Linked DNA regions of Homo sapiens. The protein of the gene in region 1 purifies or fractionates together with the protein of each later gene. This does not show direct contact. Each region holds a gene or a part of one and is shown in the gene's direction. Other genes may lie near its edges. The genes, in order: CHID1, MAN2B1 and NPR2.

The links.
Region 2: the proteins of CHID1 (region 1) and MAN2B1 fractionate together in Homo sapiens (co-fractionation; one large-scale study listed by BioGRID). This does not show direct contact.
Region 3: the proteins of CHID1 (region 1) and NPR2 purify together in Homo sapiens (co-immunoprecipitation; one large-scale study listed by IntAct). This does not show direct contact.

The regions. Positions count from the first base shown.
Region 1 is NC_000011.10:900,772-904,417, reverse strand, and holds part of CHID1 (chitinase domain-containing protein 1 isoform a precursor), read left to right. Parts: intron 1-639; coding exon of another isoform or gene 640-714; intron 715-1,306; coding exon 1,307-1,456; intron 1,457-2,087; coding exon 2,088-2,220; intron 2,221-3,437; coding exon 3,438-3,482; intron 3,483-3,646.
Region 2 is NC_000019.10:12,656,743-12,660,388, reverse strand, and holds part of MAN2B1 (lysosomal alpha-mannosidase isoform 1 precursor), read left to right. Parts: intron 1-1,875; coding exon of another isoform or gene 1,876-1,878; coding exon 1,879-1,961; intron 1,962-2,044; coding exon 2,045-2,165; intron 2,166-2,247; coding exon 2,248-2,326; intron 2,327-2,833; coding exon 2,834-2,943; intron 2,944-3,332; coding exon 3,333-3,440; intron 3,441-3,646. UniProt on the Homo sapiens protein: Necessary for the catabolism of N-linked carbohydrates released during glycoprotein turnover. Cleaves all known types of alpha-mannosidic linkages.
Region 3 is NC_000009.12:35,801,515-35,805,160, forward strand, and holds part of NPR2 (atrial natriuretic peptide receptor 2 isoform 1 precursor), read left to right. Parts: intron 1-119; coding exon of another isoform or gene 120-128; coding exon 129-249; intron 250-411; coding exon 412-486; intron 487-691; coding exon 692-769; intron 770-988; coding exon 989-1,093; intron 1,094-1,217; coding exon 1,218-1,289; intron 1,290-3,646. UniProt on the Homo sapiens protein: Receptor for the C-type natriuretic peptide NPPC/CNP hormone. Has guanylate cyclase activity upon binding of its ligand. May play a role in the regulation of skeletal growth.

The DNA.
Region 1 (3,646 bases):
GCTCTACCTCTCGTTTATATCACCTGCATCTTCATCTTGCTGTCTTTATCATGGCCTTGAGCTGTGTTTGCCTCATGCTTTTTGGGACGTTCCCCTGGGATGGCCCTGGGGATTGCACCTTCAAGGGTGTAAACTCATAGAACCACCTCTCAGCCCCAGCAGTCCCCATGCCGCTGGCCAGACCCTGCCACAGGACTGTAACTGTGACCTAGTCCTGGACTGGCAGATGCTTTCTCTGTGCTGTATGGGGGCAAATAAACCATGCAGTGGACATCTCTCTCTCACGGGGCCGCTTGGGGCGAGGTCAAGGGGAGGCTGAGCCGGGCCACAGAGTGTGGACAGAAGAGACAAGTTGATAACTGGATGGAAGGTTTCCAGGAGCAGAGGTGGAGTAGGGGCAGGTGTGACATGGCAGGAAAAGACTCGCATTGGCCAGGGGGGTGGCAGGCAGTGGTTGACCAGCAGGGTTGCATTGGTGGGGGTGGTGGCAGGCAGTGGTTGGCCAGTAGGGTCGTATTGGCGGGGGCGGTGGCAGGCAGTGGTTGGCCAGCAGGGTCACGTTGGCGGGGGCGGTGGCAGGCAGTGGTTGGCCAGCATGGTGGCGTGTGCCTGGCATGTTCTTTTCTTTTTTTTTTTGAGGTGAAGTTTTGCTCTTGTTGCCCAGGCTGGAGCGCAATGGCGCGATCTTGGCTCACCGCAACCTCTGCCACCCAGGTTCAAGCGATTCTCCTGCTTCAGCCTCCCGAGTAGCTGGGACTACAGGTGCCCGCCACCATGCCTGGCTAATTTTTGCATATTTAGTAGAGATGGGGTTTCACCATGTTGACCAGGCTGGTCTCCAACTCCTGATCTCAGGTGATCCACCTGCCTCGGCCTCCCAAAGTTCTGGGATTACAGGCGTGAGCCAATGCACCCAGCGCACCTGGCATGTTCTTGTCCAGCAAAGCGTATGGCCCTGGAGTGCCCGGATGGGTATCGAGTGGCCAGAGCTGGTGCAGACCGTCCACCCTCACATGCAAGGAGGGAGCCACCATAACTGTCTGTCTGCCTGCCTGCCTTCCAGCCCGGAGCAAGGGTGGGAAAGGCCCTGTACCGTCGGCCAGTGTCTGTTGACGGCCAGAGTGCTTCTGAATTGAATTGCCTGCTGTGGCCTCGATCCTCAACATACAGGGTCTCCGGGTCAGCAGCACTGTGTGGATCCAGAGACTCGGCTGCTGGCTGAATGGAAGGGACTTGCTGGGTGGGGCTCTGTGCTCTACACTGTGGACAGATGACTGAGGCTTTTCTCTCACTCCTTTTATTTCAGAGTCAGTTTTCAGATAAGCCGGTGCAAGACCGGGGTTTGGTGGTGACGGACCTCAAAGCTGAGAGTGTGGTTCTTGAGCATCGCAGCTACTGCTCGGCAAAGGCCCGGGACAGACACTTTGCTGGGGATGTACTGGGCTATGTCACTCCAGTAAGTTGGGGCCCTCACAGTGCAGAGGGAGGTCCTGAGGCTCAGGTGGGCTGCCCTGGCCCCGTGATGGCCTCTTCTGGCCAGTCAGTGATGGGGGTCTATGTTCTGATCTCCCGGAGCTGCTGCTGCTGTGAGGCTACGGTGGGAGAGATGCCATTCTGGAGATGTCAGAGTGTAAGACCCTGGGGGTCTCTCCAGGGGCTTGCTGTGCTGATCTCTGTGGGTTCCCCCTGAATCCAGAGGTGGGCTCGCAGGTCGTCTGGGGTCAGGAAGTGGATGTGCAGAGCCAACCCTGGGCCAGGGAGGGGTGGGTTCTCACACCCAGCCTCCTCTTCTCTTGCTGTTCCCAGCTGCCAGCCTGCAGCAGTGGTGTGCACTAGCTCCAGGTGGGGCTTAAGACAAGCACCAGTCACTTTTGGTGAAAGGGATGTCGTGGCCTGGGTCCCAGGCTGTGAGTGGCAGTCCAGAGTAGGAGAAGGATACCCCAGGCCAGGAGCTGATGTCAGTCCGGGCTGGTATCTGTCTACGCTGGCCAGCCCTGGGCACGTCCAGAGGCGCCAGAATGACAGCACCATGGTGAGACAGGTGCTCACTCACCTGTCCTCCGTCTGATGTCTCCATCTTTTGCCAGTGGAACAGCCATGGCTACGATGTCACCAAGGTCTTTGGGAGCAAGTTCACACAGATCTCACCCGTCTGGCTGCAGCTGAAGAGACGTGGCCGTGAGATGTTTGAGGTCACGGGCCTCCACGACGTGGACCAAGGTTCTCATCCTTCCTGCTTGACTGTGCTTGCCCCACAGGCTGAAAAGAGTGTGAGTGCGAGAGCAGGGGTGTGTGTGTGTGAGTAGGTATGTCTCTGTGGGTGTCTCTGTATGGGAGTGTGTGTGTGTCTCTGCGTGATTTAAGTGTGAATGTGAGTGTGTAAGTGTGAGACTGATGATGTGGGAGAGAAGAGATTGTGAGTGTGTTGAATGTGACTGTCGGTGTGGACATGTCTAAGTGTGAGACAGTGGGTGTGAGTGTTGAGTGTGGTGACTGTGAGAACCACGCCCTCACCCCTTGGGGCCCAGCCGGCAGAGCAGGCCCATGGTGTGGGCTGGTGTGCTAAGTGGGAAGGTGAGTGTGGAGCAGGGCAGGCCTGGTAGAGGGGGTTTCTGAGGTGGTCGCCACGGTGGGACCCTCTGCAAGGCCAAGTTGGTGCCTCAGAGTGTTCCGCCCAGGTCTGCGTGTGGTCCAGGTGGCTGTGAGGGTGGCCTTCCCTTGCACTTCCGGGCTGCACACAGGCGTGTGCAGGACAGGCTCTACAATGACTCAGGCAGCCTCTGGGCAGCAAACGGCACGGGCCATTGGCTTCTCCTCCTCTGTCCCTCTCTCAGCGATTTTCATTCAATGCCAGGGAGGAAGGTGGGGTTCAGGCGGAGGCTGCCTCCTGATGGCACATCCTGACCTGATGACGTCTGCCCGAGTTTACGTGGCTGCGCCTTGCGTTTGGGCTCGGACAGAGAGAAATGGCAGGGGAAGTGTTAGGCAGTTTTGGAGTTCAGAGAGCAGGAGTGGTTTTCCCTGACACTGAGAGAACCGTGGGGAGGTGATGGAATGTCAGCCAGTGTCAGGGCCTGGCGGGTCTGGCCATCCCTCAGCTCGGAGAAACCCTGACCGTCCCCAGGCCCTAGGATGCAGCTGCCTGTTCCCCTGGCCGGCCACAGGCTCTGAGCTGTCCCAGCTCAGGGAGGGTAAGCTCAGAGCTGCTCTGCAGGGTCAGGAAGGGGGCCTTGGCCAGAAGGGTGGAGAGTTGGGGTCAGGAAGAGGGTGTGGAGAGCCAGCCCTGGGCCAGGGAGGGGTGGGTTCTCACACCTGCCTGCCCGCCCCTGCCCTTCCCATTGCGTATTGTGCGGCTGCCACGTTTTCCTCCTCAGGTAGGCTGGGTCTTCCAGTTGGGCGCACGTGCCTGTGTTGACTGTCCCCTCCATGTCCCACAGGGTGGATGCGAGCTGTCAGGAAGCATGCCAAGGGCCTGCACATAGGTAAGTGCGGCAGGCCAGGAGTGGAGGCCCTGATGGCTCAAACTGCGGGGGTGGACAGGTGGGCACTGGGGTCTCCACGTGTTCCTGATCACCCGGCTGTGCTGCTGCGGCACAGGTTACTTTGACCGCTCAGAGATGAGGCTGGCCCTGGCCTGGCATTCACA
Region 2 (3,646 bases), on another chromosome or scaffold:
CTGGGACTACAGTCGCGTGCCACCACGCCCAGCTAATTTTTGTATTTTTAGTAGACAGGGTTTCACCATGTTGGCCAGGATGGTCTCGATTTCTTGACCTCGTGATCCACCCCGCTCGGCCTCCCAAGGTGCTGGGATTACAGATGTGAGCCACTGTGTGGCCTAATTTCCCTACTTTAAGTTTGGCTGATGAACAACCTCAATTCCATCTGCAACCTTAATTCCCCTTTTGCCATGTAATCTAATGTGGTAATAGGTTCTGGGGATCAGGACATGGACACTTTTGGGCAGTTATCATTTTACCCAACACAGATGTGTTAGTGTTTTGCACTAAGTGGCCTGTGGCTGTGGCTGTGTGCACAGTCAGTCACTCTCATCAGCACAGAAACTTGTCTCCCCTCTCCCATCTCAGACACCCCTTCCCATCAATCTTGTCCTCACTACGGTGCAATCTCCATTCCCACCTTCCACTCGCTCCCAGCACTGCTATTTCACCAAAACAGCTCTTTTATGTCATTTATTTTTATTTATTTTTTCTTTTTAAAATTTTATTTATTTATTTATTTATTGAGACAAGAGTCTTGCTTTGTCACCCAGGCTGGAGTGCAGTGGCATGATCTTGCCTCATGGCAACCTCTGCCTCCTGGGTTCTAGTGATTCTCCTGCCTCAGCCTCCCAAGTAGCTGGGACTACAGGCATGTGCCACCAACCCTGGCTAATTTTTGTATTTTTAGTAGAGGCAGGGTTTCACTATGTTGGCCAGGCTGGTCTCAAAACTCCTGACCTCAGGTGATCCGTCCGCCTTGGCCTCCCAAAGTGTTGGGATTGTAATCTGAGGTGGGCGGATCACTTGAAGACAGGAGTTGGAGACCAGCCTGGCCAACATGGTGAAACCTTGTCTCTACTAAAAATACTACAAATTAGGTGGGCGTGATGGCACTCATCTGTAAGACCAGCTACTCGGCAGGCTGAGGCAGGAGAATCGCTGGAACCTGGGAGGCGGAGTTTGCAGCCAGCTGAGATCGTGCCACTGCACTCCAGCTTGGGCGACAGAGTCAGACTCAGTCTCAAAAAAAAAAAAAAAAAAAAAAGTTTATTGAGCACCTACTGTGTACATTGGGGGACACAGCTCGTGCAAAACAAACATCCTTTTCCTCACATAGGTCACTTTCTTGTTCCTCCACCTTGCTCAGGTGAAAGTGCACCTCCATTCATTATAAAAATTGTGTCTAGGCCGGGCACGGTGGCTCATGCCTGTAATCCCAGCACTTTGGGAGGCTGAGGCGGGCGGATCATGAGGTCAGGAGATCGAGACCATCCTGGCTAACACGGTGAAACTCCGTCTCTACTAAAAAATGCAAAAAATTAGCCGGGTGTGGTGGCGGGCACCTGTAGTCCCAGGTACTCATGAGGCTGAGGCTGGAGAATGGCGTGAACCCAAGAGGTGGAGCTTGCAGTGAGCTGAGATTGAGCCACTGCACTACAGCCTGGGCAACAAAGTAAGACTCCGTCCCAAAAAAAAAAAGTTGTGTTTTTTGGTAACAATCTGACAGTCCTGCAAAACGATTATTCCTGCCCTATAATGTCACACTTAGTTTTTCCACAAAAGTTTTTAATAATAAAGTTGGAATTATTGTAAAAGTTTAGTAAAATTTCAGGTTTATTCTTGCATCTCTGAAATCCTTTTAAAAAAGGCTAGTGGTCATGTTTGACTTCAGCCAAAATTCATTTTCACACCCAACCATTGGCTTGCACGCCAAATATGTATTTAGAGAAACTGAACCTATGGGATGCATGAATGTGCACACATGTGTGGAAGTGTGGGCCCCCAGGAAGGTGCGGACTCCCGAGGGCTCACTCCGTCGCCTCCCCCAGCAGCAGGCAAAAGGAAGCAGTGTCCATGTTCTCTACTCCACCCCCGCTTGTTACCTCTGGGAGCTGAACAAGGCCAACCTCACCTGGTATTTGGGGAAACTGGGGAGCTTGGGGGGGTTGGCATGCCCCGTGGGTCATGACCCTGCCCTCAATGCCCCTGCCGCTGTAGGTCAGTGAAACATGACGACTTCTTCCCTTACGCGGATGGCCCCCACCAGTTCTGGACCGGTTACTTTTCCAGTCGGCCGGCCCTCAAACGCTACGAGCGCCTCAGCTACAACTTCCTGCAGGTGGGTAGGAGCCGGGCTAGAGGGGGCATGCAGCCCCGAGGCCCGACAGGCTGGGCGCCCCAACATACCCCTCTGCCTCCAGGTGTGCAACCAGCTGGAGGCGCTGGTGGGCCTGGCGGCCAACGTGGGACCCTATGGCTCCGGAGACAGTGCACCCCTCAGTAAGTGTCGGGCCCAAGAGGGGAAGAGGTTTGCGGCTGAAGTTGGAAACCACCCCTAGGCCGCCCCCCTCGAGTTTCTTCTTTTTTTTTTTTTTTTTTTTTTTTTTTGAGACGGAGTCTCGATTTGTCTCCCAGGCTGGAGTGCAGTGGTGCGATCTCGGCTCACTGCAAGCTCCACCTCCCGTGTTCACGCCATTCTCCTGACTCAGCCTCCCGAGTAGCTGGGACTACAGGCGCCCACCACCACGCCCGGCTAATTTTTTGTATTTTTAGTAGAGACGGGGTTTCACCATGTTAGCCAGGATGGTCTCGATCTGACCTCGTGATCCGCCCGCCTCGGTCTCTCAAAGTGCTGGGATTACAGGCGTGAGCCACCGCCCCCAGCCGTCCTCGAGTTCCTTCTTAAAGCCTCTAAGAATCCTGCCCGCCAGCACCGGACCTTTCGCTTCCCCTTGGGGTCTCAGCTGAGTCCCACAGAACCTCACCGGACTCATTGTCTATGAGCAGATGAGGCGATGGCTGTGCTCCAGCATCACGACGCCGTCAGCGGCACCTCCCGCCAGCACGTGGCCAACGACTACGCGCGCCAGCTTGCGGCAGGCTGGGGGCCTTGCGAGGTGCGCGGGGCGAGACTTGGGAGACACGGGGGTGGAGACAGGAAGGGGCGGGGCCAGGGCCTGGGAAAGGGGACAGAGACAGGTGTGAGGCGTAGCCGAGAGCCCTGTGGCGGGGCTACAAGGGCTCGTGGGGGCGGGGCTTGTAGGAGGCGGGGAAAGATACAGGAACGGGGCGGGGCTTTGGAGGGGGGAAGGAGGCGGGGCGTGGGCAAGAGGAGGCGGAGACAGCTATGGGGTATAGTCAAGGGCAGCAGGGTGGGGCTAGAAGGGGTTTTGGGGCGACTCTTGAGGGAGGCGGGACAGAGACCGGAACGGGGCGGGGCCTGAGGAGAGGGGAGGAGTCAGGCCTGGCGTCCTGAACCCACCGGTCCCTTTGCGCTCTTCCGCAGGTTCTTCTGAGCAACGCGCTGGCGCGGCTCAGAGGCTTCAAAGATCACTTCACCTTTTGCCAACAGCTAAACATCAGCATCTGCCCGCTCAGCCAGACGGCGGCGCGCGTGAGCCGGGACGGGAGGGGTGGATCTAGGGCAGATGGGCTTTAGAGGGGGTAGTTGGAAAATGTTTTTGGAGGACTATACAGGAGTGAAATTACGTGGGCTGCGAAGCTGGGTCAGCAGAGAGAACAACGCATCTCGAGGGGGCTTGGCCTTAAGTGCCGTGACCACACTAGGACCAGCCAGGGGTGTTTCTGTGCAAAGTGGGT
Region 3 (3,646 bases), on another chromosome or scaffold:
CCAGCCCTGTCTCTCAGGTGTAACAGTTGCAGCTTCAGGAGCTGCAGGGAAGCCCCTGCAACCCTGCTGTTGGCTTGGGGGTGGCAGGATTCGGCTTGCCAGTCAACTGAGGTGTGCAGTCCTTACAGAAAGCTGATGCTGGAGAAGGAGCTGGCTAGCATGTTGTGGCGTATTCGCTGGGAAGAACTGCAGTTTGGCAACTCAGAGCGTTATCACAAAGGTGCAGGCAGTCGCCTCACACTGTCGCTGGTGAGCCCTTGTCTCAGCTGTTCCTCTGCCTCCCTCTGAGTTCCTGTCCCTTCTTACCCTGGATCTCTCCCAGCACATTGGCTTGTAATGATAGCCCCTGCACTACCACCATCATCTAATGTTCCTTTCATCCTTCCGCCTCCATGTTGCCCTTGGCCCCAGCGGGGATCCAGTTACGGCTCGCTCATGACAGCCCATGGGAAATACCAGATCTTTGCCAACACCGGTCACTTCAAGGTGAACAGTCATTTGCTTGTTCTGGTCCCCACCATTTCATCCTGTCTCATCCCCATCTGCCACCTCTGCCCCTGAACCTCTGTCCCTCATACCCGACTCTCTGTGCCCAGCTGAGCTCCTGGGTGCTTCCACTGCTCTCTAGCATTTCCTTGTACCCAGAACTTCTGATATTCACTTTCCTTTCCCCTTTCACTCCCACCATCAGGGAAATGTTGTCGCCATCAAACATGTGAATAAGAAGCGCATTGAGCTGACCCGGCAGGTTCTGTTTGAACTCAAACATGTATGTAACAGAGGATGGACTCTAACATGTATGTAATGGAGGAGTGGGGAAAACTATGAAATAGTAAAATTGGCTAGATGGGCAAGGGGTTGATTTATAAATGATTTTAAAATCGTAGATACAACTAAGAGAAAGGTCCTCTTATGTAGTGGTAAGTTTCTGTATCTAATTTTTAACTCTTTCAATTTTCTTATCCTTCCCATTGTTTTTTTCTGCCAGATGAGAGATGTTCAGTTCAACCATCTCACTCGCTTCATTGGCGCCTGCATAGACCCTCCCAACATTTGCATTGTCACTGAATACTGTCCTCGTGGGAGTTTACAGGTGAGGGATAGGTGTAGGAGATTATGGCAGGGGTGGGAAGGATAGACCCAAAGTTATACTGACTCTATGCTGGGTGATAGCTGGTGGGACCAGGACAGACAGTCTATTCCATGTCACTTACCAGGATATTCTAGAAAATGACAGCATCAACTTGGACTGGATGTTTCGTTATTCACTCATTAATGACCTTGTTAAGGTGAGTCTTCCCCACTCCTTAAAAGTTCATCCACTTTAAATCACTTCCACTGTTCTTTGATTGTGGTTTTTCTCCTTCTAGTCCTCTGAAGTCCTGTTCTCTCATCTCCCCTTATTCCCATGGTCTGGTAATAATGGGTAAACAAGGAGTCTGGGGCTTATAACTGGGACAGTGAGTTTTACCTGCCACAAGGAGTCCTGTGCCTGTAGAGAGTTTCTATCTTTCTGTCTTAAATATCTCAGGTCTCTTTCCATCATCTCTTTTACCTCTAAGAACTCATAAAATGAGTGGAGTCTCTGAACATATTTTTTTTTTTTTGAGACGGAGTCTCGCTCTGTCGCCCAGGCTGGAGTGCAGTGGCGGGATCTCGGCTCACTGCAAGCTCCGCCTCCCGGGTTCACGCCATTCTCCTGCCTCAGCCTCCCAAGTAGCTGGGACTACAGGCGCCCGCCACTACGCCCGGCTAATTTTTTTGTATTTTTAGTAGAGACGGGGTTTCACCGTTTTAGCCGGGATGGTCTCGATCTCTTGACCTCGTGATCCGCCCGCCTCGGCCTCCCAAAGTGCTGGGATTACAGGCGTGAGCCACCGCGCCCGGCCTGAACATATTTATCTCTTGTTTTTCCTCTCATTATTTTACTCTCCGAACATATTTATCTCCTGTTTTTCCTCTCATTATTTTACTCTCTGACCAATATTTGGCATGTCTGCCCTTTTGTTCAGAAAACTGAAATTTAAAAAAGGAACATTTACTAGTAGAACTAAGAGAAACCAAGGAAGATTGTACTAAAAACCTTTGGTACTCTTCTGTTATACTAGGTTTTAGCTATGTTCAAATGACTCAGAGGCCCATGGATTTGTGGAGCATAAAATAGAATCTTGCATGAGTTGGACAGGTTTTCTGAAATAAGTCTCATAGCCAATGAGCATCCCAGTGGATCACCCCACACTGTATCTGAAACTAGCTTTGGTTTTCTGCTGAATTCTCATGAAGTTATTTAAAAAGTATTTTTTTGTGTGTGAAAATTTGCTATCAAATGAGAGATAAAAATATTAGTAAAGCCAATGTCATGCTCAACTAGAGGTGTGATGATAAACATAAGACACGACTCTTGAGAGAACAGTGATTTGGTGGAAAAGTGATTTACAACAAAGCCAGAAGCCTAATCCTGTGATTGTTGAAGGCATCCTTTGCACAGTTTCCACACAAGTAAATTCACAACTTCAGAGATTCCCAAAAGTTTTGTTGATACCAAAATAAATAAAAAGGAAGAATTCATAGAGATTAGAGTTATGAATTAAGTCCAGAGCTAAACATTTAGACAGAAATGTTTTTTGTTAGCATATTGAACCTTGTATCCTCTTTCTGTCTCACCTGAACTGACTTGGGTGGCTCCTAGGGTTTCATTTTTGGGGAGCATCATTAAGACTTTTTTTTTTTTTTTTCTGAGACAGGGTCTTATTCTGTCACCCAGGCTAGAGTGTAGTGGCTAGGTCACTGCTCACTGCAGCTTCGACCTCCTGGGCTCAAGTGATTCTCCCATCTTAGCCTCCTGAGTAGCTGGGACCACAGCGTGTGCTGCAGTGCCCGGCTCATTTTTATATTTTTGGTAGAGGTGGGGTTTCGCCATGTTGCTGAGGCTGGTCTTGAACTGCTGGGCTCAAGCAATCTGCCAGCCTTGGCCTCCCAAAGTGCTGGGATTACAGGCATGAGCCACTGAGCCCGGCCTTTAAGACTGTCTTTCAGCTCCTCGGAGGCAAAGGTTTTTCCCTCTCTGGACCCACAGAGCCAGCAGTTTTAGGCTTCTGCACTGGCTTAGCAGATTTTGTCCATTTTCCAGGTTTATGATGTTCTGCACTTTCTCTCTGATCCAGCATTCCCTCTAGTAGATCTTGTTCCTCCTCTACCCCGACTTGCCCACCTCCCTCTAGTAGATCTTATTCCTCCTCTACCCCGACCTGCCCACCTCCCTCTAGTAGATCTTGTTCTTCCTCTACCCCGACCTGCCCACCTCCCTCTAGTAGATCTTGTTCCTCCTCTACCCCGACCTGCCCACCTCCCTCTAGTAGATCTTGTTCCTCCTCTACCCCGACCTGCCCACCTCCCTCTAGTAGATCTTGTTCCTCCTCTACCCCGACCTGCCCACCTCCCTCTAGTAGATCTTGTTCCTCCTCTACCCCGACCTGCCCACCTCCCTCTAGTAGATCTTGTTCCTCCTCTACCCCGACTTGCCCACCTACGCCTGGTTATGCATTAAAGTTTACAACTGGTCTTCCTTGGTATATCCAGCTACTCTTGATACCTGGGTCTCAAGTCATGTCTTCCTAATTAGTAGCCAGGTATCTGAGGCCACCAT